Linked DNA regions of Homo sapiens: all the other regions are linked to region 1. The links come from fine-mapping of genetic effects on gene expression. A gene starts in region 1. Each other region holds a variant in brackets. All regions are shown on one strand. Distances are from middle to middle.

Region 1 (4,000 bases):
TCGAGCGAATTACACAGTTGTCTTGGCAGCGTGATTTGCCCTCTGGTTCCTGCTTTATCAGTTTGGTGATTCTTTGTACAGATTGATAACCATGAAAAAGTCTAAAGTAGGGCAGTTCCGGAGCAGCCTTTTCCCATAAAGCAAGCGGGTACCTCACAAAACTCCAGGCAAAAGAATGAATGATAGAGCACTCACCAATAGCGAGTGGAGAAGAGTATTTTGTCGAAGTTTGCAAACCAATCTTTGGGAGCCAGAGGTGGGAATTTTAAAATGAGGTCTTTTCCTTGGAATTTTCTTAAAGTGGTATCGTTGCCTGTTGATATTGAAGTTTGTCAAAGAACGTGAAATCACCAGCTTAGAGGATTTTTTTCCCCTTTAAGAGAGACAAAACGTGCGAATTGATTCTCTACAAATTGTGAGAACTTCAAGAGTGGGGTCATAAAGTATTATCAAATATAATCACTTGGTAACTTTTGTGTCAATGTGGGGAGGAGGTGAAGGTTATTTTAACATGATTCATTTTTCATGATCAAATATCAGATATTAATCACTGAAAAACAGTATTCCCCATTAAAAAAAAGAAATGAAAACTAAGAGGCTAACATTGTTTTCAAAAAACTGTTCTACTGTTAATCTTTTTTCTTTTTTGGGGGGTGTAACTCTTCATATATTAGCAGCAAGTCTTATTATTTGGGCTGACCATTAAACACCGTATCTTTGTTTTTACACAAAATGTGGATTTCCTCATTTTAAGACCAGCAAAAAATTTCTGAGTGCCACGAATTCTTAGGTATTCCGAAACTATCTTAGAAATACATGACATATACCAACCATGCTGTATACCTGAATAGCTCTTGAAGACCAGATTTAATAGATAACTGATAATTTTTATTATAACTCATACCTTGTTTTAAAACCAATGTTTTTTATTTAATATAACTCTGCTTTCTAGGTTATTCGTCTCTATGAATAATTAAGTCAGCAACTGTAAAAACTACTTCATTATAAAGTTAAAGTTCCTTGACAAGGAGCCTCGCAAACTCATAGACAGGCTTTCCACAGAACAAAAAATATCAGCGGTTGTAGTAGAGGATTATACTTTAAAATCTTCATTTCAGAAGGAAATTTGTCATATTAATGAGACACTTTAAAAAGTGTCTTTTAAAAATGTTTCCGAACTATGCTTCCAAGTATTTTTAACAGCATAAAGCCCTCTTTCATGCTATTTCGCTGACATAATAATTTTCGTCTTGAAGAAATACATATTGACGGCCTACTCAGTCAGGCTAGGAAGTGTCATTGTATTTAACTCTCTAAATTGTTCCTGACCTTTTTAGCAATCTTTACTCAAAATAAACCTTGGGTGTTTGAAGGGCAGAGACTAGGTTACGTCCTCCTCATCTTTGTTATCTACCAGTTCGTAGTGACCCCTTAAATCCGGTGCTTAGACTCACTACTTGCTAAATAACGTTGGCTTCGTTACATAAACCCACTGGCCTGTTTTTCAACGGTCAGACTGGCGCTGTTAGTCCCTGTGTCATGGGATTGCTGTCAAGGGTTCAACGAGATAATCTATAAACAGCTCTTAGAACGAACGCTCAACGTGGGATCATTGTTGTAATCCCTCAACGTGTGCTCTGAATGAGAAGCCGAGTGACTGAATGAATGTATGAATGAAGGAACAGGTCAGTAACTGGCGGTTCCCGAAGTTGGAGCCGACTAAATTACCCCTTCAAGACGCTAAGCAAAAGCCACTCCGTCGACATCAAACCCCACGCCGGAGCCGGAAGCAAGAGTAGAGCCGCGGGCGGGGCCAGCATAGAGGAAGTAGCGCTCTCGGCCAATACACAGATCGCTTGGCAAACGAGCATTTTCCCGCGCCTATCGTGAAAGCGCGAGAACACAGGGGATTATCGCGAGGTTCCGTGCTCCTCTCCCGCTCCCTCTTCCCCAGCTCCCTCTGGCGCGGGTTCCGCTCCACCCCCGGAGCCCCGCCCCCGACGCCCGGCGCTCCGCCCCGCCCTCGCCTGGCTCCCTGCCCCGCCCCGCCCGCCGTCCCCCGCTTGGCTTCCAGCGCCGCTTGCGCTCCGGAGCGCTGGCTCTGCTGGCGCTGAGGTGAGTAGAGCTGTCCGCCTCGTCGGGTGATTCAAGTGGCGAGGCTCTCTGACCCGGCCCCCCGGCGGGGACGCCCCAGACGTGGTCCTGCCAAAGCGTCCGGGTCGCGGCGAGTGGGACAGCGGAGCCGTCCGGGCCTCGGGTGGCCACAGCTGCCGGGTCCTCCTCCCACTCTGCGGCCCGCGGCCCCTGGGACCCGAGAACCCTGATACCGGGTCCGTGAAATCCCTGCTGCTGGGCTCGCTGCTTCCCAACTGTAACGATCTCAGTGGCTGGCTAACTCGGGCGAAACGGCGTGTGTTTTGCCTAAGACTCTGCCAGTGTTTGTTACCACAGCTGAGAAAATAGCCTTTTACAAATGCTTTTAATATGTAGCTTATAGTTCTCTAATCTCCAGCGTTAGGAAATTGGAATGCGTATTCTACTAAATTGAGTACGGGGAGGTCAGTATAAGGGACTCCTTCCTTTCAAAATACTCCTTAATATGTGTGGAATTTTGTTGAGAGGTTTTTGATTTTTTTGTTTTGTTTTTAATAATAAGATAGATTGGTGTTCACCTGTCAGAAAGCTCGTGTGTAAGTGCAGCTGTATACAGCTGATATTAAGTAATACTATTTGCCTTAACTACATAAGAGGTAGTATAACTATACAAGAGGTAGTTTGCTTAACTAGGTAAGATGTAGTCAAGTGAAATGGGGTAAGAAAATTACCTTGTTAAAGGCTGTGTATGGCCCGTGAATGCATACTGCAAAACTGTGAGCATTGTTGATGCTTTATTGCTATTATTGGCAGTTTTAGGATTTCATTTGTTTAGATTTTATCTCCCAAACAGCCTTTGTAGCAATTTTAACAGAGTGTAATGGTGTTTTTGAGGCAGCCAATCCCAGCCAGAACATTCAGAAGGAAAGCCGTCAGGTTACAGGGACTGTCTTATTGAATCTTCCTTCAGTGAGTGTGGTTTTGCATTATAGGGCGGCGGTGCACACGCTTTGTAGTCAGTCCACCTGCGATGGAACTATGGCATGTTACCCTCTGAGAAACTCAGTTTCCTCCTCTACAAAACGGGCTACATAATGTCTATTGCAGTGCATGGTTGTAAAGATTAGACATCCTTGTGGCATGTAGCAAGCTTATAGGCTCTATCCGTGGTCTTGACATAGTTGGATGAAAAATCAACCTTGCAATGTTCTTCCACATGTCATCAGATATTAGAAGGCCTACTTTAAAATTTTAAGTCCCTGGATACATGTGCAGAATATGCCGGTTTGTTACATAGGTAAACGTGTGCCATGGTGATTTGCTGCACCTGTCAACCCATCACCTAGGTTTTAGGAAGGGTTACTTTTAGTTACTGTGCTAGATGCAGGTATGCAAGCGTGAAGAAAACAACGCAGTCCCTGCCCTCAGGATTTCTAAATAAGTTTCGGAAGGGTTTATTTACAGGCTTTTTGGCTTTATTGACAATAGACAGATGCAACGATAAATATTTAAGTGACAAATTGTGAGGAGTCCTACGAAGAAAAAACAAACAGCCAAGTTCCTCTGAAAGAACACCAGGGGAATTACTTTGGGATAGGGAAGTGATTTTTTTTTTTTTAAGACTGAGTCTCGCTCTGTCGCTCAGGTTGGAGTGCAGTGGTGCGATCTCGGTTTACTGCAAGCTCCGCCTCCCGGTTTCAAGAGATTCTCCTGCCTCAGTCTCCCGAGTAGCTGGGATTACAGGCGCCCGCCACCAAACCCAGCTAATTTTTGTATTTTTAGTAGAGATGGGGTTTCGCCAAGTTGGCCAGGCTGGTCTCGAACTCCTCACCTCAGGTGATCCACCCTCCTCGGCCTCCCAAAGTGCTAGGATTACAGGCGTGAGCCACTGCGCCCGGTCTCAGGA
Region 2 (8,478 bases), 29 kb before region 1:
TCAACCTACACATACAATCTAGTTAGGAAGGTAAACTGAATTCTTCCGGCTTTGGCTAAGGGCAGCCATGTAGGTCAACTGGGATACTCTGCCTCTTCCAACACAGACCTTTCTCCACCTTTTCCTCTGCACAAGTCCATCTTTCCAAAGAGTGTGGACAAACTCTGTCACCCCAATACTCTGAGGAATTGGCTTAGGTTGCTCTTTGGAGAAAGATAAAAGTACTAACTATGCACAACCTTCTCTTCGTGTCTCTTCCAGCTGAGTTTATTTGGTGAGTATGGAGTAAGGTGAGGAACAAAGAACAATCCTTTCGTGATCATGGATTCAGATGTGTTTAAGATCTTTCTCCTTTGAGGCTTTCATCATAAACTCAACCTGTTGAAGCATTTTAGACTGGAGCAGGGCAGGGAAAAAAGGAAGGGAGGGAGGAAGAGAAGGGTGTAGGGGCTGGGGGTGAGGAGGGAGAGCAGGTAAAACGAAAGTCAAGAGAATAATGATCAGAACTCTGGGACCCAGGGCACTCCACAGAGAGTGAAAAGTGTCACTGATGGATGCCCTGGTTGGGGCTGCTCTGACATGACTGTGTTCCTCTTTTACTTTTACACAGTGACCTCCAGAGAAGCCATGGCCGCAGCCTCATGGAGATGCTCCTCCTACCTGAGACAGATTCTACAGGCAAAGAGCCTCCCGCCATCATGTATGCAAAATCCTAAACTTGAAACTTACTGTGCAAATGATAATCTGATCCGTGCTTCAATTTCTATCCATTCTTCCTTTATAATTCTTCCACATTGTAGCAGCTCCTTTGAAAGTCTCTCTGCTTTTGTCAAATTCTCTGCAGCTTCCTTAAATCTGAATTGTGTTCAGGAAATTTTCCACTTGGTTCTAGATTCTACACCCCATGTCCTGAACTTCCTTGGCTCCCATACTTCCAATCACACTTCCTAAGTCATCCATCAGCATCAGCTTTTTACTTGGCGTGTAAGTGTTACGTGAATAGTATTTCTATTTGTAAAAGTTAGAGGCAAAAGGATACTTTTGAAGGGAGAGTAAAGCTCTGCCCATGGTATGGAAAAGCTCAATGGAAAACTTGAAAACATCTGTATTCTCACTATAGGGAGGCACAATGGAGTTGGCGAGGATTTGTCTGGCTTTTTCTGCATGTTGTTTTGCTTGCAGTGACAGTCCTGTGGACAAAGAAAAAGAGGTCTCAGTTTCTCTATCATCTCAACTGGACAGGAATACAGTTCCTTATGGTCTGGGAATCTAACAAGGTCTCCTTCACATATTGTCAAATGACACATGGAGACGTATCTGGGCAGCATGAAACACTGCCATGACTGTAACAACCAAAGAAGTGTTTTATACCAAGTACCCAAGATAAATTTTCCCCCAAATGGCCTTTTTAGAAATAAACAAAATGAGCTGGAATTGAACAGCTTTGAAACCTCACCAATAGCAGAAGCAAAATATGTTACATATAATTATAAGAAACAAACTGAATACAAGAACTATAGCATTCTGAGCAGGAAATAAAATATTCATGAATTTTAATCCTGGCTGTGTAACTGCAATCTTAATGAAATACTAAAAATTCTGAATCTTCAGCTCACCCACCTATAATCATAATGTCAGAGAGTTATTTTTTTAACATAATACATATCTGATATCTACAAAAACTTACAAACACAATTCCAGTGAGGTAACAGATTAATGTGTGACAATTTCATCTTCCTATGTGGTAAGAGACTAATATGAAACAAAGTGGAGCAAAAAAAAATCACTACTAAGAAAGAATTCCCCAGTGTGTTCCAGTGTTCCTCCACGGGCTTGTTAATCTGTGGGAAGGGAGGACTGAGATCGCTAGCACGGCTTCAGGGCTTTGCACGTCCCTGTATTCCCATCCTCCTCCCCTACACCGACAACCACTTCCACTCACATACACACAGCCCCCATCTTATGTTCTTAGTTACACAAAATTGTATCTTAGATCTCTAAAAAAATCTGTCAAAATATGAAGTTAATTCTGTTCCTATGTCTATAAAACAGGAAGAATATATTTTCTAATGGAGAAAATCAAGGGTATGTGTTTCATGTGGGAATTCTTACACAAGATTGTCTTATTACATATTTTTAAAAAGCACAGACATGTATTAGTGCCACCTGTGCTTGTGATGTTACACAAAGCATGTTGGACTGTATTTTCAACTGTGTCGAGTCCCTGAAGGAACCTGAACTCAATTTACTGGAGGCAGCATAGGGTGAAGTTCAAGAACATTGGCTCTGAAGTCAGACTGCCCAGGATGGATCCCCTGCTCCACCACTTATTATAAAACGTTGGCCTCAGCTTTCTCAGCTGTAAACAGGGATATTAAAAATACCCACCTTTGAGGACTGTGGTGAGGACTGAATAAGGTTATGCATGGAAAACAACATGCCTGGCACCAAATGAGACTTTAATAAATGGTAGATACTACTTTTACTTTAAATTGAGAAAGAAGGACTGTCACGCAGAGAGGCAGCAGGCTGTATAAGAAAAGCATCGTCTGAAACCCCAGATGGCAGGACAAACTGGCATTGAAAACCTAGGTCTGAGTCTCAGATCAGCTACTTATTAACAGTGTGGTATGGGGAAAGCTGTTCTAACTCAGACTCATTGTTTTCCCTGAATCTACAAAATGGGGTGGGAGGGCAGAGTTTAAATTAGATAATCTCCAAGGTCCCTAAGAGCCTTTGATCTAATAGGTAGGACCAGTCTATAATCAGATTTGGCCAAATTTATTGGGTGGCAATAATGAATACGCTTGGTATAGAATATGCTTGGCATTTGGTGTTTTCCACTTCTATTATTTTCTTTATTCACTGGGCCAACCCTGGAAAGTTAGCATCACCATTACCATCATCATCACTTTTCAGCTGAAGAAGCTGAGCACAGAGATGCTCTTGTCCATCTTGTCTTAGGCTGCACAGTCAGTAAGTAGAAGCCATCATCATATCCTGGGTGTCTATTGTTTTTGCCTCCCCTGCACGCATTCTCCCCTCTGTTTCCCTTTTGGGATGCCTGGCTCCTGCACATCCAATCCATGAGATGTGGCGAAGGCCTGCTTCTCCTTCAGGATCCAATGAAGCCAAAAGAAAGGTTTAGCCAATCAGACTATTCCTTGCCTTTGGTATACAACCCAAGTTGTTCCAATTAGAACCCTTCCCAAATCCCGGGATTTTGGTGGAGGGACATTCTTTTCCTCCTGGGAATGCTTATAAGGGAAGTCTAAAGTTGCAGGCAGTCTTGTTGCCACCATGTGGGCAAAACCTGGCAAAGAATGGAGCAAATACCAAGAAAAACAGAGCCAAGCAGTGGGAGAGAGAAAAATTGAATCCTGGTCACATTGTTTGAACACTGGATATGGCTAAGTCTAAAAATTTTTTCCCTTGAATTTTTAAGTTGTATGAGCCAAAAACTTTTGTTTATGCCAATTTGGGTTAGTCTTTTTAAATTTTTTGGTTATTTACAGTCAAGAGATTCTCCAATAAAAGTGTGAATGGATCCCATTCTGGGCCCCTATTCCATACCTTGGGTTTTTTCCTACAAAGTCTTCTGGCCCAACAGATTAATTTTCTCCTAAGAACCTTACTTTTGAAATCATAAAAACAAAAACAAAAACAAAAAAACCAGAAAAGTTAAAATATTTTTTCCATTTTTCCCCTTTGAATGTTTACAGGTTATATACCTTATCAACTCTTTCTAAAAAGAAATGGCTTCTTGGTATTTAGAAAGGAGAATATTAAAAAACCTGATCCTTCTAATTAAGTGTGAATCAAATTTTGGGGAGAACAGCAGAAATCGACCAACTGATCCCCCTCAGTCTAAGGCGAGCTTACCTTTCAGCTGGAGGTAGCCTTGAGCCAGATTAACATGTGCCTCTGCTAGTTTCCAATGTGAGTCTCCATAGCAAATTCTTGTCAGTGCTACGCAACGCACAAGCTCATGGACGGCCTGTTTGTACTGTTAGGAAGAGAAAACAGGCTTACCAGTTATACAACTTAAGAGTCACAAAACACAAAATCAATGCGCTTTTATATCCCTTTGATAAATACTGAGTGACTACTATGTGCAAAACATTGTTCTAAGCACTTGAGATGTATCAGAGAACAAAACAGACAAAGATCTATTTGGGGTGGTAGCATGTACATCTGGTAAGATGAAACAGACAATAAACATAAGAAGTACAATTTATAGTACATTTAAGGGTGAAAAAAAGAAATAGAATTTAAAAAATAGAAAAAGTAGAGCAGACATCTAGTCATTCTCTAGGTTTCCCAGCTGCCCACCAATGAACAGCTACTACATATGCAGGCACAACAGGGGCAAATGGTAGTGTTTTCAAATAGTACACTTTGTGTGTGTGTGTATGTGTGTGTGTGTATGAGACAGGGTCTCACTCACCTGGAGTCACCCAGGCTGGAGTACAATGGCACGATATCAGCTCACTGTAGCCTCGACCTCCAGGGGGCTCGAGCAATCCTCCCACCTCAGCCTCCTGAGCAGCTGGGACCACAGGTGTGCACCACCACACCTGGCTAGTTTTTTGTATTTTTGGTAGAGATGGGATTTTGCCATGTTGCCCAGGCTGTCAAATACTATAGTTTAGCTCTCAATTCAAAACTTTCCTTAGCCATCTGCACTAGCATAGCAAATGAGATCAGCAGGACTTACAGACTTGATTAAAGCAGCAAGAAGCACAGTTTCATTCAGGGATAGGACAAAAAGAACAGAAAACTGGATTCCCAGCTCCAGGTGATCTCAGAGCAGCCATATCCTCAAAGCAGAGCTGGCAGTTTTAAAACACGGTTCCAGGCTGGGCGTGGTGGCTCAAACCTGTAATCCCAGCACTTTGGGAGGCGGAGATGGGTGAATCACAAGGTCAAGAGATCGAGACCATCCTGGCTAACATGGTGAAACCCCATCTCTACTAAAAATACAAAAAATTAGCCAGGCATGGTGGCGGCCGCCCGTAGTCCCAGCTACTCGGGAGGCTGGGGCAGGAGAATGGTGTGAACCCGGGAGGCGGAGCTTGCAGTGAGCCGATATCGTGCCACTGCATTCCAGCCTGGGCGACACAGCGAGACTCC[G/A]TCTCAAAACAAACAAACAAACAAAACCTCAGCTCCAAAATTATTTGATACTCCTTCCATTCAGAGATGGGGGTCTATGTCCCATTCCCTTTGAATCTGGGCTTTATGACTGTTTGGCCAATAGAACGTGGAGGAAATGATACAGTGCCAGTTTTCAGGCCACAGTCTAAAGGAACTGGTGGCTTTGCTTTCTGTCTCTTCTTGGGTACTCACTCTTGAAACCTGTTATGGGCTGAACTGTGTCTCCTCCCCAACCTCCCTGAATTCATATATTTAAGTCCCAATCCCCAGCACCTTATAATGTAACTGTTTTTGAAGATGAGGTCTTTAAAGAGGTGATTTAAGTTCGAAGGAGGTGTTAGGGTGGACCCTAGTCCAATACAGCTGGTATCCTTATATATGAAGAGGAAAAGACACCAGGGATGGGCATGCATATGGAGAAATGACCATGTGAGAACACAGCAAGAGGGCAGTCATCTACAAACTAAGGAGAGAGGGCTTTAGAATGAAATCAAGCCCTGCTCACACCTTGGTCTTGGACTTCCAGCCTCCAGAACTGTGAGGAAATAAACTCTGTTCTTTAAGCCACAGCATCTGTGGAATTTTGTTAGGACAGCACCACAGACTAATACAGAATCCAACCACAGTGCTGTGAGGAAGCCAACATGGCCCCATGGAGAGAAGACCCACATAGAAAGGCCTGATAGTTTGAGTGAACCATTTTGGCAGCAGATTCTCCAGACCCTTCAAGACCAGCTGATGCTGTGCGGAGCAAAGCTGAGCAAACCCCACTGAGCTCTGCAAAAACCGCAGGCTCATGAGAAAAATGAATGGCTGTTTTGGTTTTAAGCCACTAAGTTATTGGGGTGTCATGCAGCAACAGATAGTCAGAACAGCAAGAGAGATGGCTGAAGAAAGAAAGCTGAAGGGGTCAAAGCAGAGGAAGAAAGGTAAGAACAAGGACAGAGTTGTGAAGAAGATCCAGGATACACCTAGGATGCACGCCCATCAATGTCAAAGCTCAAAGGGCTTGCATTTCCACACAATTCCTACATGCATTGGAAATACCTTCACCCTAAAACAACATTTTTCTTGACAAAAATACACAGCCAGACAGTTGGCCAAAGGAGAGTCACTTTTGTGACCTAGCAGGAGGAAGCTAAGGAATACATGCTCACCATAAAGTGCTGAAAGAAGGTGGACTGTCATATTCTTTTCTACAGTAACGTTTCTTACTACAAAAATAATGTATGCTCATTGTCAAAATACAGATAAGCAAAAAGATAAAAACTAAAAATCACCTGTAAGTTTACCGCCTAGAGATATCTAGGTAGATAAATATCCCTTTATTCTTTATTTTTGTGAATCTATCTTTATATATTTTTTCTTTTTCAAAAATAGGTTCATAAACTACATGCAGGTTTACAGCTGCTGTTTTAACAATTTACGAATAACTTCTCATGTCATCTTCTATGATATAAGTTTGAATGGCTGCACAGTATTTTATTATATGACTATATCATAACTGCATTACTCAATCCACTCTTTATTGGGCATTTAGCTGTTTGTAAATTTCTTACTCACTGAATATCCTGTATGGATAGCTTTGCACATACCCATAAACATTTCCACAAAACAAATTCCCACAAATGGGATTGCTGTATAAAGGATATGCAAAATTCTGAGGCTGTGAGTAGCTATTGAAGTGCCTCTCCCAGAGGTTGTACCAGTTCATACTTTCAGCGCAGCACATGTGAGCAGAAATGCCCCTTACGTTGAACTGAGTACAAATTGTGGAGTTTTTGTTTGGTTTTTAGTTTGTCAGTTTGTCAGTTAGCCCATTTCTCCTTGATTTAGTCCACATTTTTCTCCCAAATTGATGAGGCTGAGCATCTTCATGTGTTAACTGGCTGTTTGTACTTCTTTTGGGAATCACCTTTTTATTGCCTCTAGACACAGGAAGTTTAGGGAATGACTACTTTGGAGAGAGAGAAAGAGAACAACAACTACAGTGTATGAAAGACACGGAAATGATGACAACATCATGGAATCCAGACAGACAAAAAGAGAGGTAGATCTGTTTTGATAGTGAATCTGTCCCAACTACAGATTTCCAGCGAAGAGGACGGTGCAGGCTGAGTTGGGCTTCCCTGATAATAGCCTTGGTTCTCAGGACCTGAGTAGGGATAGAGGTATACAAGAAACAGCTTGTCCTTCCTTCACGTCCTTATTTGTTACAAGGCATGGTCCAAATATCCCTATTGGTTTTCCAACCTTTATTCTACCAGTTCCAGTGACTTTAGCAATAGGCATCAGTAAGGGGCAGACAGAAGACAAGCACGAAGTAGGAAGGCAATTTCAAAACTGGGAGGAACCTTGGAAATCATCTCACCTGGTCCCCTCAGTTTAAAGATGAAGGAGTCTAAGGCTGGAAAGTCGAGATGATTTACCAGCAAGTGGTAGCGCCAGGAAGTGGTTAAACCGTAAGGGGATGCATTGAGGACTCAGGAGCCAGCTGGAAGGGTCTCTCACTGGCAGATACGGAACAATCCGAGCTTCCATGAAAATAACAGGTTGTAGTGTATTTGAAAAATACAATTTCCTGAACCCATACTGATAGGAATAAATGAATGATAAATAAGCTGTGAAGAAAGAAAAGCTCTTCCTTATAATAGAATGCCAACAAACAAATGTTGAAATAATGTGGAAGTCAGAGACTGGCTATGTGACAAACATCATAGTAATAACTGATTCAGGTGGCAGAGTGAAGTTTTAAATATATACATAGTCTCAGTGAATCTACCCACAAAATACTTATTAATTACAAAGGGAAAAATGGCAATTCTGCAGTAAAGAAACCTGCCAGACAGCACCTTAACCAAGTGTTCAAGGTTGGCATCACTGTACGAAGACAAACAGACATTCTGCACCTCCTGACAGGACGCACTAAGGAGCGCCCCATGTCACACCTGTGGTAGTCCTGCTCCAAATGTACAATCTGAATAGAATCATGAGGAAGCATAAGACGAACTCAAACAGAGAGATATTCTACAAAACAATTAGAGTATATATTTCCAAGATATCAAGATCATGAAAAACAAAGTAGGTTAAGCAATTGTTTCAGATTAAAGGAGACTAAAGAGACATGACAACTCTATTTAACATGAATTCACAGACTGAACCATGGGTCTGATTGTTTTCTGTAAAGGACATTATTAAGAAGAAATATAAACAAGGTTTACAGATTAGATAATAGTATTATACTGACATTAATTTCCTAATTACGATCACTGTACTGTGGCCATGTAAGGGAATAGCTTTATTCTTAGGGAATAAACACTGAAG
Region 3 (4,000 bases), 29 kb after region 1:
TGGGATTACAGGCATCCGCCACCACGCCTGGCTAATTTTTGTATTTTTAGTAGAGACGGGGTTTCACCATCTTGGCCAGGCTGGCTTCAAACTCCTGACCTTGTGATCCACCTGCCTTGGCCTCCCAAAGTGCTGGGATTACAGGCGTGAGCCACTGCACCTGGTCCCTTGTCTTCTTTCTGATCTTGCTGGGAATGCCTCTAGGGTTTCCCCATTAAGAAAGATGCTGGCTTTACAGTTAAAGTGTCTGTAGTCTATTGTGTTAAGCAAATATTCACCTTTTTAATTATCTATTGCTGCTTAACAACTTACCCCCAAATGTAGTGATTTAAAAGAATAAACATTCAGTGTCTTGTATTTTCTGAGGCCCCAGAATCTGTGCCTGACTTAGCTGGGTGCCTTTGCCTCCAGGTCTCTTACGAAGCTGCAGTCAAGGTTGTTGGCCAGGACTGCAGTCTCATCTGAAGATTTAACTGAAGAAGGATCTTCCTCTATTCACGTGGTTGTTGTCAGGTTCAATTCCTTGTAGGCTGTTGAACTGAAGGACTCCATTTCTTGCTTGATGTTGGCTAGAGCACTTCCCTCATTTCCTTGCCATTTGGCCTTTCTGTAGGATAGTTCACAACATAGCAACTGTCTTCCATCAGAGCAAGCAAGCCAAAGAGCAAGAGAGAGTATACACTTTCCCACAATCCCTGGTAATCACTAATGTACTTTCCGTCTCTATGGATACACGTTTTTCTGGATGTTTTATATTAGTGGAATGAGACAATATGTGACCTTTTGTATCTGGCTGCATTAACATAGCATAATGTTTTCAAGGTTTATTCATGTTGTAGCAGGTATCAGAATTAATTCCTTTTTATGGCTGAATAATATTCCGTTGAATAGATACATGACTTTTTGTTTATCTGTTCATCAGTTGATAGACATTTGAGTGGTTTCCACATTTTGAAAGCTTTTCCTTTTACAGTTTGTGGTTTGTCAGTTGTTTGTTACAACTGTTTCAAGCAGCTGTGAAGTTAAACAATTGCCTGTAATTTGTTTCAGTTTACAGTGGTTTTTGCCCTGGGCAATCTGCTACTCAGACGGAATAAAGACAGCCTTGCAACTGGGTCTTCCAGGGAACCTTGAGACAAATCTTTGACAGTTCTCTGAGAAGGAAGCTTTGAAGGCACTCTAACGTGGTCCTACCCCCTTGCTACTGCTTTTCTCTTTGATTGTGAACTGTTGGTTTTTCAGGCTTCTGCAGAGCAGGAGAGTGGGGTTAGGACTAGAGCAAGCGAAAATACCATGAAGCCTACAACCCACGGTTCTTACTGACGCTCAGTCATTTTTTTCTTGGATAAATTCTCCCTGTATTATGGTAAGCCTTAGGTTCATTTCCAGAGTTCTCAACATGTAGCATTTGGACATTTCTGACAGTTTCTCATTGTTTTTATGGAAGAGAATTTTTGGAGGTTCTTACTCTACCACTGTTGCTCAAAATTTTTAGTTTTGTAAAAAACTGCCGGTTTACCAGATTAGCTGTTCCATTTTACATTTCCCCTGGCAATGTATGATTGTTCCAGCGTCCGCACATCTTACCAGCATTTGGTGTTGTCTTTGTTATTTTAGTCATTTGGATAGATATGTGGTTTTTATGACATTGGAATTTCCATTTGTATTTCTAGAATGACTAATGATATTGAACATCCTTTTGTATACTAATTTGTCATTGGCATCTTTTTTTGGTGAAATGCCTGTCCATGTCTATTGCTCATCTTCTGATTGTATTTTTTTTAATTTCTGAGTTTTAAGAGTTCTTTGTAAACTAGTTTTCTGTTCTATATGTTGTTTACAAATATTCTCTCCCAGTGTATAGCTTGTGTTTTCATCCTGTTTATGTTCTTTTGCAGAGCAAAAGTTTTACATTTTGATGAGGTCCAGTTTATCATTTTTTGCTTTGATGTGTCATGCTTTTGATGGCAAGTCTAAAAACTCTGTGTCTAGCCCTAGGTCCCAAAGACTCTCTCCTTTCCCCGCCCCCACCCCAAAGTCTTACAGTTTTTTATTGTACATTTATCACCTATATTTTTAAAATTTTTTTCTGGGATTAGAATTCTTAGTGACCATTTTTTTTGTTGTTGTTGTTATCAGCACGTTCATGATATTCATTATTCCCTGGCGTGCATAGTTTCTGAAGAAACATCTACAGTTGTTATATTTGTTCCTTTGTGTGTATGTGTCTTTTTCTCCCTTGGGCTACTTTGAAGGGTTTTCATTTTTTACACTAATTTTAAGGGTTTGATTTAGGTGTATCTTGTTGTAGTTTTCTTCTTTCTTACCTTTGAGGTTCATGGGGTTTCTTGGGGTTGTGTCTTAACAGTTTTTATCAAATTTGGAAAACTTTTGACATTGTTTTTTCAGATATTTATTTATATACCCTGTTCCTGGCCCCTGCTTGTGGAACTCTTACCTGTTTGTTA[G/C]ACTGTTTAATACTGTCTCGTAGTCACTAAGACTTTTCATTTCCTTTTCAGACTTTTATTCCCTATGTGCTTCAGTTTGGACAAATTGTATGTTCTGTGTTAAAAGTCAGTAATATTTTCTTCTTCAGTGTCTAATGTACTATACTAATCCCACTCAGTGAAGTTTTCTCTTTGGTTACTGTATTTTTTTTTTTTTAAGGGACAGGGTCTTGCTCTGTCGCCCAGGCTGGAGTGCAGTGGCTCTATCCTAGCTCGTTGCAGCCTTGAACTCCTGGGCTCAAGGGATCCTCCCATCTCAGCCTCCCAAGTAGCTAGAAGTACAGGCATGCACCACCATGCCCAGCTAAATTTTAAATTTTTTCATAGACATGGGGATTTGCTGTGTTGCCCAGGCTGGCTTTCTGTGTGTGTTTTTGAGACAGGGTCTTACATTGTCACCCAGGAGTTACACTGGAGTGTTGTGATGCAATCATGGCTCACTGTAACATCAAACTCCTGGGCTCAAGTGATCCTCCTGCCTCAGCCTCCCAAAGCTCTGGGATTATGGGAGTGAGCCACTGTGCCCAGCCTGTTACTGTATTTATGATATTTGGAAGTTCTGTTTATTTTTCTTTATCTTACAGTTCTTATAATGTTCATATTTTCATTTAAATAGCTGAATATAGTTATTATAGCTATTTTAATGTCCTGTTTGCTAATTCTGTCATCTGTGTCATACTGGTTCTATTTGTACTGACTGATTTTTCTCCTGGTTATGGGTCATATTTTCCTGATTCTTGGCATGTCTAATACTTTTTGATTGGATGGACCTTATAAAGTTTGCATTTTTGAGAGTCTAAATTTTATTGTGTCCCTTTTTTCTGGCATGCAGCTATTTGCAGTTTACTTTGATCCTTTTATGGCTTATTTTTATACTTTGTTAGGATAGGTGGTTAGGTTAGCCCTATTACTAAAGCATGAGCTTTCCAGGATCTCTCTTGAATACCTCAAATGATCAACAAGGATTTGGCATACTTGCTCAGAACTTGAATGTCTCTCAACACTGTGAGCTTTGCAGGCTGTTCAGCTGATTGATTTTCAGGTGCTTTTTGCCTGGAGTACCTTTTATTTTTCTTCTATTATTTTTTGAGATGGGGGTCCCATTATATTGCTCAGGCTGGTCTTGAATTCTTGTCCTCAAGTGATCCTCCTGCTTCAGCCTCCCAAGTAGCTAGGGTTACAGGTATGACCCATGACCCACTGTATCCTGTTAGAGTTTTTCTTATGTGTGTTTGTTCTAGAATTCAGCTATGAGTGAGGCCAAGGGATTCCTTATGCAAATTTTTGGAGGTTTTTTTTTTTTTTGTAGCAGTAGCTCTCTCTTCTTCAGAACTTTACCCCACAACTTCCAGTTGCCTCAGGTTCCCTGAACTCTGATATGTGTCTCCATAACTCAGTAAGACTTCTGTACTTTGGGATTTCCTTCCTGTTCTACAGTCCAGAATTTGCCCCTAGGGTGAAAGCTAGGGAGATTGTGTGGCTTACTTCCTTTC
Region 4 (8,478 bases), 20 kb before region 1:
TCACTAGGCCTTGAGTGCCCTCTGGGCCTCAGTTCCTGCCCATAATCCAGCTTCATTTCTTGCCCTGTGTCACTAACACATTAGTCCCAGACAGCTCCTTACAGTTCCCCAGACAGACTGCACTCCCTCAGACCATTGGCTCTTGTCCATCTGCTACCTCTGTCCAGAACATTTGGTCCTCTTCCTCACCTGTCCAACTCCTAAGCACTGTTTACCAGTGCAGTCTACGTAACTCCCATCCGAAGAAAGTGTGCCTTAACTGCTGTCCCTCTACCACCTCCAGGCTCACTGTCCACCCCTTCGTGTTTTGCATCTATGTCACTCGAGCTCTCACAGAACTCATCAACCTGACTACCATTATCTGTCCCCCGTCTATCTTCCCAACCAAATCCCGAGTCCCTCCAAGACAAAGACTGTGGCTTTTCCTTCTGTGCCCCTGGCACCTACATTGCACCTGGCACATATTAGTCATACAATAGATATTTATGATGACTGGATGAAGAGGACCCAACATATAAGAGGTGATAGAGAAATGCCTACTGAATGAGTTAGTGAATGAGTAAAACTTTTGAGGAAAGAATGGGAAAGAAGCATGCAGAGAACAAGATTTGAGATTATAAGGAATTACAAGCTCTATGAGAGCAGAAGCTGCATCTGCTTTGTTTGTGTTGTATCCCAATGCCTAGACTTGGCACACAGTGCGAGCTCAACAAATATTTGTTGTTGGCCATGCGAACTGCTGTGCTTGGAGCCTAGAGGTACTGCATTCATTCATGTTATAACAAAGGCACTGTCTTATATACTTTCTTGTATCAAACTGCTGAGATTAGGAATGTAATCCAAAACATTCTACTTCTCTTGATTATACCATATAGCTCAATTCTCAGAGTAGAAATACAGAAACAAAAGTCTCCTTACCTCATGACTGTTGGAATAGGACTTTGCTTTCTCTTCACAGAGGTGGAGTTTCTCTCGAGGAGGCTGGAATAGTGCTGTCTGAAGCAGCTTGTTTTGGAACTTCTTTCTATGAGTGATGCTAACAGCAGCAACAACTTCATCTAGGTGGTTGGATATGTGGGTTTCCTGTGATTCTTGCATATTTTTATATACATTGTCTTCTAATTTTAAAATAAAAAACAAAGATGTTAAATGATAATTTCCATAGTTACTTTTAGAAATATACATTTCAACACTATACCCATAATTTCTTTGAAATTAGTAGCATTATATCCCAAAAGATTATGGTGGCTACTACTGACCTGCTGATTTCTACTTTCAACTAAATTAAACCTTCTTTCTTTATGTATATAGACATACATATATATATGCCTACATACATATACACACATACATACACATGTATATAAACACACATACATACATGTATATGTGTATGTATTACACACATACATACATACGTAAAGTCCAGTAGAAATTAGCCTAGCACATACATATGTATTTGTATGTACATATATATATAAAGTCCAGTAGAAATTAGCCTAGCACATACATATGTATTTGCATGTACATATATATATATATATCTAAAGTCCAGTAGAAATTAGCTTAGCCCAAACAGCTCTCAATGACCCCAGATTAAATCAGCTGAAGCCCAATTGACCCTGAGGTAGAAAATAAATAATTGTTGTTACAACTTTTGCTTCTGGCCAAGATGAAGTCTAGTAACTACATTTATCCTCTTGCCTGAAATAACCCAAAACAAACAGATAAGCAGCCCACAGAACAAAGGATAAAACAACGGTTTCAAGAAACAAGACAAGCAATGAGAGAGCAATTCCTGAGAGATGGAAAAAATAAATCACCCCAGTTTATTGCTTTGAGAGAGTTTCCAGGAAACAGCACAGGGAAGAGGGGACCCAGAAGTTATCCCAGTGGACTACCTGAGTTGAGGAAGTAGAGTTGAGAGTTTGGGGAGACCAAGGTGACTAGAACTGACAGGACAAATTACTGAAGAGGAGAAGGCTCCAGAGACAGAGGAACCAAGATATTAGCAGAGGGACACCCTCAAGTATAGGGACAGAATACTGATTAGCATGTGTGTAAGAAAAGTATTTTAGTCTGGAGAAAGAATCCTTCAATAAGGTTACAGGGAACAGTGTTTTGTGCTAACGTAAGGCTGGCGCCTGTTCCCACCAACCAGACTGAAAAAATTTCTAATTCATGAGGCATTAGATAGTTAGAGTACTCAGAAGCCTTTCATCTCAGTAGAGGCGATAATTAGCTCTAGACTGAACACTGCTCAGATCACCACACAGATCAAAAAAGTAAGACCTAAAAGGATCAAACTGTTTTCAAGGGACTTAATTGCACTAGAGGATAATACTCAAGGATGTTCATAGGAATACTAAAATAACCAACACCTAACGAGGTAAAATTCACAAAGTCTAGCATCCAAAGATTACCAAGCATCCAAAGAAGCAGGAAAACATGGCCCATAATGAGAATAATCAATCAAAAC[T/C]GACCCAGAATTGACACAGATGTTAAATTAGCAGATAAAAACATTAAAACAATTACAATAATTGTATTCTATATGTTTAAAAAGTTAAATAAAGACATGGAAGAAATAAAAAAGACCCAAATGGAACTTCTAGATAGAAAAATTATGTGTGAAGATGAAAATGTGTGGGATTAATGGCAGATAAGATACTGCAGATGAAAAGATGAATTTGTAGACATAGCAATAAAAATTATCAAAAATGAAAAAAAATCAGTGGGCTGTAAAACAACTTCAAGTTGCCTAATATATATGTCATTTGAGTCCCTAAAGAAAAGCAGACTAGAGGAGGGACAGAAAACATATTTGAAGAAATAATGGCCAATATTTTTCCAAATTTAAGAAAAAGCATAAAGCCAGAGATCCAAGAAGCTCAATGAACACTAAACGCAAGAAACATGAAGAAAACTATACCAAATAAAGTCAAAACATCATAAACAAATTGCTTAAAACTATGATAAAGCAAAAATCTCAAAAGTAGAGAAAAAAGACACATTACGTATAAAAAATAAAGATAAAGATGATAACAGATTTCTTAGGGGAATAAAAAGCAAACAAGGAGAGAGTTAAAGATACTTCTTATCTTTAAAGTATGGAAAGAAAAAAGTTGTCAACCTTAAATTCCGTACTGGTGAAAATACCTTTTGAAAACAAAATTTTAAATAATTAATCGCCAGAAGACTTGCACTACAATGTTCTCAAAGAAATGTAAAAGGAAGTCTTTCAGAAGGAAGGAAAATGATAGCAAATGGAACTCTAGTTCTACAAAACAGACGACCTTGGAAATGGTACGTACATGGGCAAATGTGTAAGGCTGCTTCCATATTACAATCATGTCCAGCTCCACAGCATTTCAGTCAATGACTGCATACATAAAGGTAGTCCCATAAAATTACAGTGCAGCTGAAGAATTCCTACTGGGTAGTGATACAGTAGCTGTCGTAACATCATAGCGTAATGCATTGACTCATGTGTTGGTGGTAATGCTGGTGCAAACAAACCTATTGTGCTGCTAGCCATATAAAAGTAAAGCATATACAATTATGTACAGTACACAATATGTGATAATAGTTGATAAATGACTGTTACTGGTTTATATATTTAATATACTACATTTTATACTTATTTTAGAGGGTACTCCTTCTACTTATACATTTCTAAAAGTTAACTGTAGAAAAGCCTCAGGCAGGTCCTTCAAGAGCTATTCCAAAAGAAGGTATTCCATTATCATCATAGGTGATGAAAGCTCCATGCATGTTACTGCCACTGAAGACCCTCCAGTGGGACAAGACATGGAGGTGGAAGGCAGTGATATTGATGATCCTGACTGTGTAGACCTACATTAATGTGTGTGTTTGTGTCTTAATTTTGTTTTTTTTTGAGACGAAGTCTCGCTCTGTTGCCCAGGCTGGAGTGCAGTTGGCACGATCTCGGCTCACTGCAAGCTCCGCCTCCCGGGTTCACACCATTCTCCTGCCTCAGCCTCCTGAGTAGCTGGGACTACAGGCGCCCGCCACCATACCCGGCTATTTTTTTGTATTTTTAGTAGAGATAGGGTTTCACCGTGTTAGCCAGGATGGTCTCGATCTCCTGACCTCGTGATCTGCCCACCTCTGCCTCCCAAAGTGCTGGGATTACGGGCATTAGCCACTGCGCCTGGCCTGTTTGTTTGTTTGTTTTGAGACGGAGTTTCACTGTTGTTGCCCAGGCTGGAGTGCAATGGCTCTATCTTGGCTCACCGCAACCTCTACCCCCCAGGTTCAAGCAATTCTCCTGCCTCAGCCTCCTGAGTAGGTGGGATTACAGGCATGCGCCACCATGCCTGGCTAATTTTGTATTTTTAGTAGAGACGGGGTTTCTCCATGTTGGTCAGGCTGCTCTGGAACTCCTGATCTCAGGTGATCCACCCGCCTTGGCCGCCCAAAGTGCTGGGATTACAGGCATGAGCCACCATGCCTGGCCTGTGTCTTAGTTTTAACAAAAAAGTTTAAAAAGTAAAAAAAGAAAATAAAAAATTTTAAAAATAGAAAAAAGCTTATAGAGTAAGGATATAAAGAAAGAAAAATTTGGCGGGGCGCGGTGGCTCACACCTGTAATCTCAGCACTTTGGGAGGCCAAGGTGAGCGGATCACAAGATCAAGAGATGGAGACCATCCTGGCTAACATGGTGAAACCCCATCTCTCCCAAAAATACAGAAAATTAGCTGGGCGTGGTGGCACATGCCTGTAATCCCAGCTACTCGGGAGGCTGAGGCAGGAGAATTGCTTGAACTTGGGAGGCGGAGGTTGCAGTGAGCCAAGATCAAGCCACTGCACTCCAGCCTGGGCGACACAGTGAGACTCCATCTCAAAAAAAAAAAAAATGATCAAAGGGCCTGATAGATATTCCTCAAAAGATATACAAATGCCCAATAGGTGTATGAAAAAATGCCCAAGATTGTTATCATTAGAGAAATGCAAATTATATCCATGAGATTTCATCTTACACCTGTTAAAATGGCTATGATTAAAAAAAGAAAGATACATGTTGGTGAAGATGTGGAGAAAAGGGAATCCTTGCACATTGTTGGTGGGAATGTAAATTATGGAACACAGTAAGGAAGTTTCTCAAAAATTAAAAACAGAACTACCATATGATCCATGAATCCCACTACTGGGTGATACATCCAAAGAACAGTATTAGTATATTGAAGAGATCCCTGCACTCCATGTTCATTGCAGCATTATTGACAATGATCAAGATACGGTGTTAATGTAAATGTCTATCAACAGATGAATGGATAAAGAAAATGTGGTATGTATACACAATGGAATACTACTCAGCCTTAAAAAAGAAGGGCATCCTGTCATTTGTGACAACATGATGAACCTGGAAAATACTATGTTAAGTGAAATAGCCAGGCACAGAAAGACAAATACTGAATGGTCTCATTCATATGTACAATCTACAAAAGTTGAACTCACACAAGTAGAGAGTAGAATGCTGGTTAGCGGAGGTTGTGGGAGGAGGAATAAATTCAAGAGATCTATTGTATAACATGGTGACTACTGTATTGTTTCCTTGAAAATTGCTAAGAAAGTAGATTTCAAGTGTTCTAATCACAAAAAGTGATAAATATGTGAGGTAATACATATGTTAATTAGCTTATTTAGCCATTCCACAACATGTACATATTTCAAAACATCATGTTGTACAAATAAAAGAATGAGAGAGATGACATCACTACAGATTCTACAAATACTAAAAGGTTAATGAGAATATTGTGAACACCTTTATACCATAAATTTGACAATACAGATGAACAAATTCCTTTAAAGACACAAACTACCAAAGCCCAAAATATTAATAAAAAAGAAAAACTGTATGATCTCACTCAACATAGAAAAAGCACTTGACAAGATCTAATATCTAATATCTATTCCTGATGAAAATTCTTAGCAAAGTAGGAATAGAATTATACTTCCTCAATCTGATAGGCACCTTTGAAAAACCTACAGCTAACATCAGACTTAACAGTGAAAGACTGAATGCTTTATCTCTACGATCAGAAACAAGACAAGAAGGTTCACTCTCAATACTTCTATACAGATTTTAGATTTTAATCTAAATGTGAAATTTAGATTTAAATCTAAAATACAGATTTATTGAGCTATATTTATGATAAAGCTACGGTAGGCAAGGCAGTTTGTACTGCTGTTAAGTAGACAAGCAATGGAACAGAATGGAGAGTCCAGAAATGGACCCACACATACATGAATAACTGATTCCTGACAAATATGCAAAACCAATTCCTTGGAGAAAGAAGTCTGCTCAACAAATGATACTGGAACAACTAGATATTCACACGTAAAAATAAAACAAAAAACCCCTTTGATCTATATCTCATATTATATACAAAAATTAACTCAAAATTGAACATAGAGTTAAATATAAAACTTAAAACTATAAAAACAATGTGTAAGAAAACACCTGTGACCATGCATTAGGCAAAGCTTTCCTAGATATGACCACCAAAAAGAATCATTAAAAGAACAACATAACCAATTGGATTTCATCAAAATTTTAAATTTTTGCTCTTCAAGAGAAACTGTTAATTAAAAAACTAGAGGCTGGGAGAAAATATTTTCATAAACATGTATCTGATGTAAGATTTGTATCTTACTGGTATAAAGAACTCTCAACACTCAAGAAAACAGCTCACTATACAAATGGGCAATTTATTTATTTATTTATCTATTTATTTATTTATTTATTTTTTGAGACGGAGTCTCGCTCTGTCGCCTAGGCTGGAGTGCAGTGGCGTGATCTCGGCTCCCTGCAAGCTCCACCTCCTGGGTTCACACCATTGTCCTGCCTCAGCCTCCTGAGCAGCTGGGACTACAGGTGCCCGCCACCATGCCTGGCTAAATTTTTTTGTATTTTTAGTAGAGACAGGGTTTCACCATATTAGCCAGGATGGTCTCGATCTCCTGACCTCGTGATCTGCCTGCCTCAGCCTCCCAAAGTGCTGGGATTACAGGTGTGAGCCACCGCACCTGGCCAAAAATGGGCAATTTATTTTAACAGACGCTTCATCAAAGAAGATATACCAAGAACAAATAAGCACATGCTTTATATTCAACATTATTAGGCATCAGGGAAATGCAAGTTAAAACCACAATGAGACGTCACTCATCAATTAGAATGACTAAGATTAAAAAGACTTATTGTAGTAAGTGTTGATGAGGATGGGAAATAACTGGAACTCTCATACACTGTTGCTGTAAATGTAAAATGGTATACCACTTTGGAAAACAGTTTGGCAGGGTTTAAAAAAAAAAAAACTGGTAAAATAAGGCCAAGCATGGTGGCTCATACCTGTAATCCCAGCACTCTGGGAGGTGGAGGCGGGAGGGTCACCTCAGCTCAGGAGTTTGGGACCAGCCTGGGCAACATGGCAAAACTCTGTCTCTACAAAAAATACAAAAATTAGCCAGGTGCAGTGGCATGTGCCTGTAGTCTCAGCTACTCCGGAGGCTGAAGCAGGAGGATGGCTTGAGCCTGGGAGGGGCAGACTGCAGTGAGCCAAGATCACACCATTGAACCCCAGCCTGAGAGACAGAGGAAGACACCATCTCAAAAAACAAAACAAAACAAAATTGTAGTAAAAAATATATATATATAAAATAAAATTTCTCATTTTAACCTTTTCATTTTTTTCCCTTTCTTCATGTGGACATTTTAAGCATTTTTTTTTTTTTTTGGTTTGTTTTTGTTTTTGAGACGGAGTCTTGCTCTGTCGCCAGGCTAAAGTGCAGTGGCGCGATCTCGGCTCACTGCAATCTCTGCCTCCTGGGTTCAAGCGATTCCCCTGCCTCAGCCTCCCGAGTAGCTGGGACTACAGGCACACACCACCACGCCCAGCTAATTTTTTTGTATTTTAGTAGAGATGGGGTTTCACCATGTTGGTCAGGATGGTCTCAATCTCCTGACCTCGTGATCCGCCTGCCTTGGCCTCCCAAAGTGCTGGGATTACAGGCATGAGCCACTGTGCCCGGACCATTTTAACCATTTTTAAGTGTGCAGTTCAGTGACATTAAGTAAATTCACATTGCTGTACAACCATTACCACTGTCCATCTCCAGAATTTCCTTCACCTTGCAAAACTGACACTCTGTACTCATTAAACAGTAACTTCCCATTCCCCCTACCCTCCACCTCTGGCAACACCCATTCTACTTTCTGTCTCTGAATCTGACTGCTCTAGGTACTTTGTATGTGTGGAATTATACATTATTTTGCCTTTTGTGACTGCTTATGTCTCTTAGCATAATGCCTTCAAAGTTCATCCATATTGTAGCATGTCAGAATTTCCTTTCTTTTTAAGGCTAAATACTATATAACATATTGTGTTTATACATTTATCCATTAAGGAACACTTGGGTTGCTTCCACCTTTTAGCTATTGTGAATAATACTGCTAT

What was found.
Region 2: its variant is fine-mapped to the expression of LRRC28 in whole blood (TOPMed, PIP above 0.99).
Region 3: its variant is fine-mapped to the expression of LRRC28 in whole blood (INTERVAL, PIP above 0.99).
Region 4: its variant is fine-mapped to the expression of LRRC28 in whole blood (TOPMed, PIP 0.98).

Annotation. Positions count from the first base shown.
Region 1 is chr15:99,249,427-99,253,426 of GRCh38, forward strand. LRRC28 (leucine rich repeat containing 28) reads left to right here and starts at 2,055. Exons shown (of 10, transcript NM_144598.5): 1 at 2,055-2,115. TTC23 (tetratricopeptide repeat domain 23) reads right to left here and starts at 155. Exons shown (of 14, transcript NM_001288615.3): 1 at 1-155. RefSeq lists an enhancer at 1,530-1,579 and a silencer at 1,830-2,369.
Region 2 is chr15:99,217,859-99,226,336 of GRCh38, forward strand. It overlaps TTC23 (tetratricopeptide repeat domain 23), which reads right to left. Exons shown (of 14, transcript NM_001288615.3): 6 at 3,883-4,006; 7 at 1,040-1,190; 8 at 730-855. Among named protein-coding and RNA genes, the nearest start is that of TTC23, 27 kb to the right of the region's middle. RefSeq lists an enhancer at 56-1,255. The variant G/A (reference allele first, on the strand shown) is at 5,134.
Region 3 is chr15:99,278,380-99,282,379 of GRCh38, forward strand. The region is part of intron 3 of LRRC28 (leucine rich repeat containing 28); the gene reads left to right. Among named protein-coding and RNA genes, the nearest start is that of LRRC28, 29 kb to the left of the region's middle. The variant G/C (reference allele first, on the strand shown) is at 2,469.
Region 4 is chr15:99,227,615-99,236,092 of GRCh38, forward strand. It overlaps TTC23 (tetratricopeptide repeat domain 23), which reads right to left. Exons shown (of 14, transcript NM_001288615.3): 4 at 7,374-7,466; 5 at 919-1,118. The coding sequence starts at 1,098. Among named protein-coding and RNA genes, the nearest start is that of TTC23, 18 kb to the right of the region's middle. The variant T/C (reference allele first, on the strand shown) is at 2,480.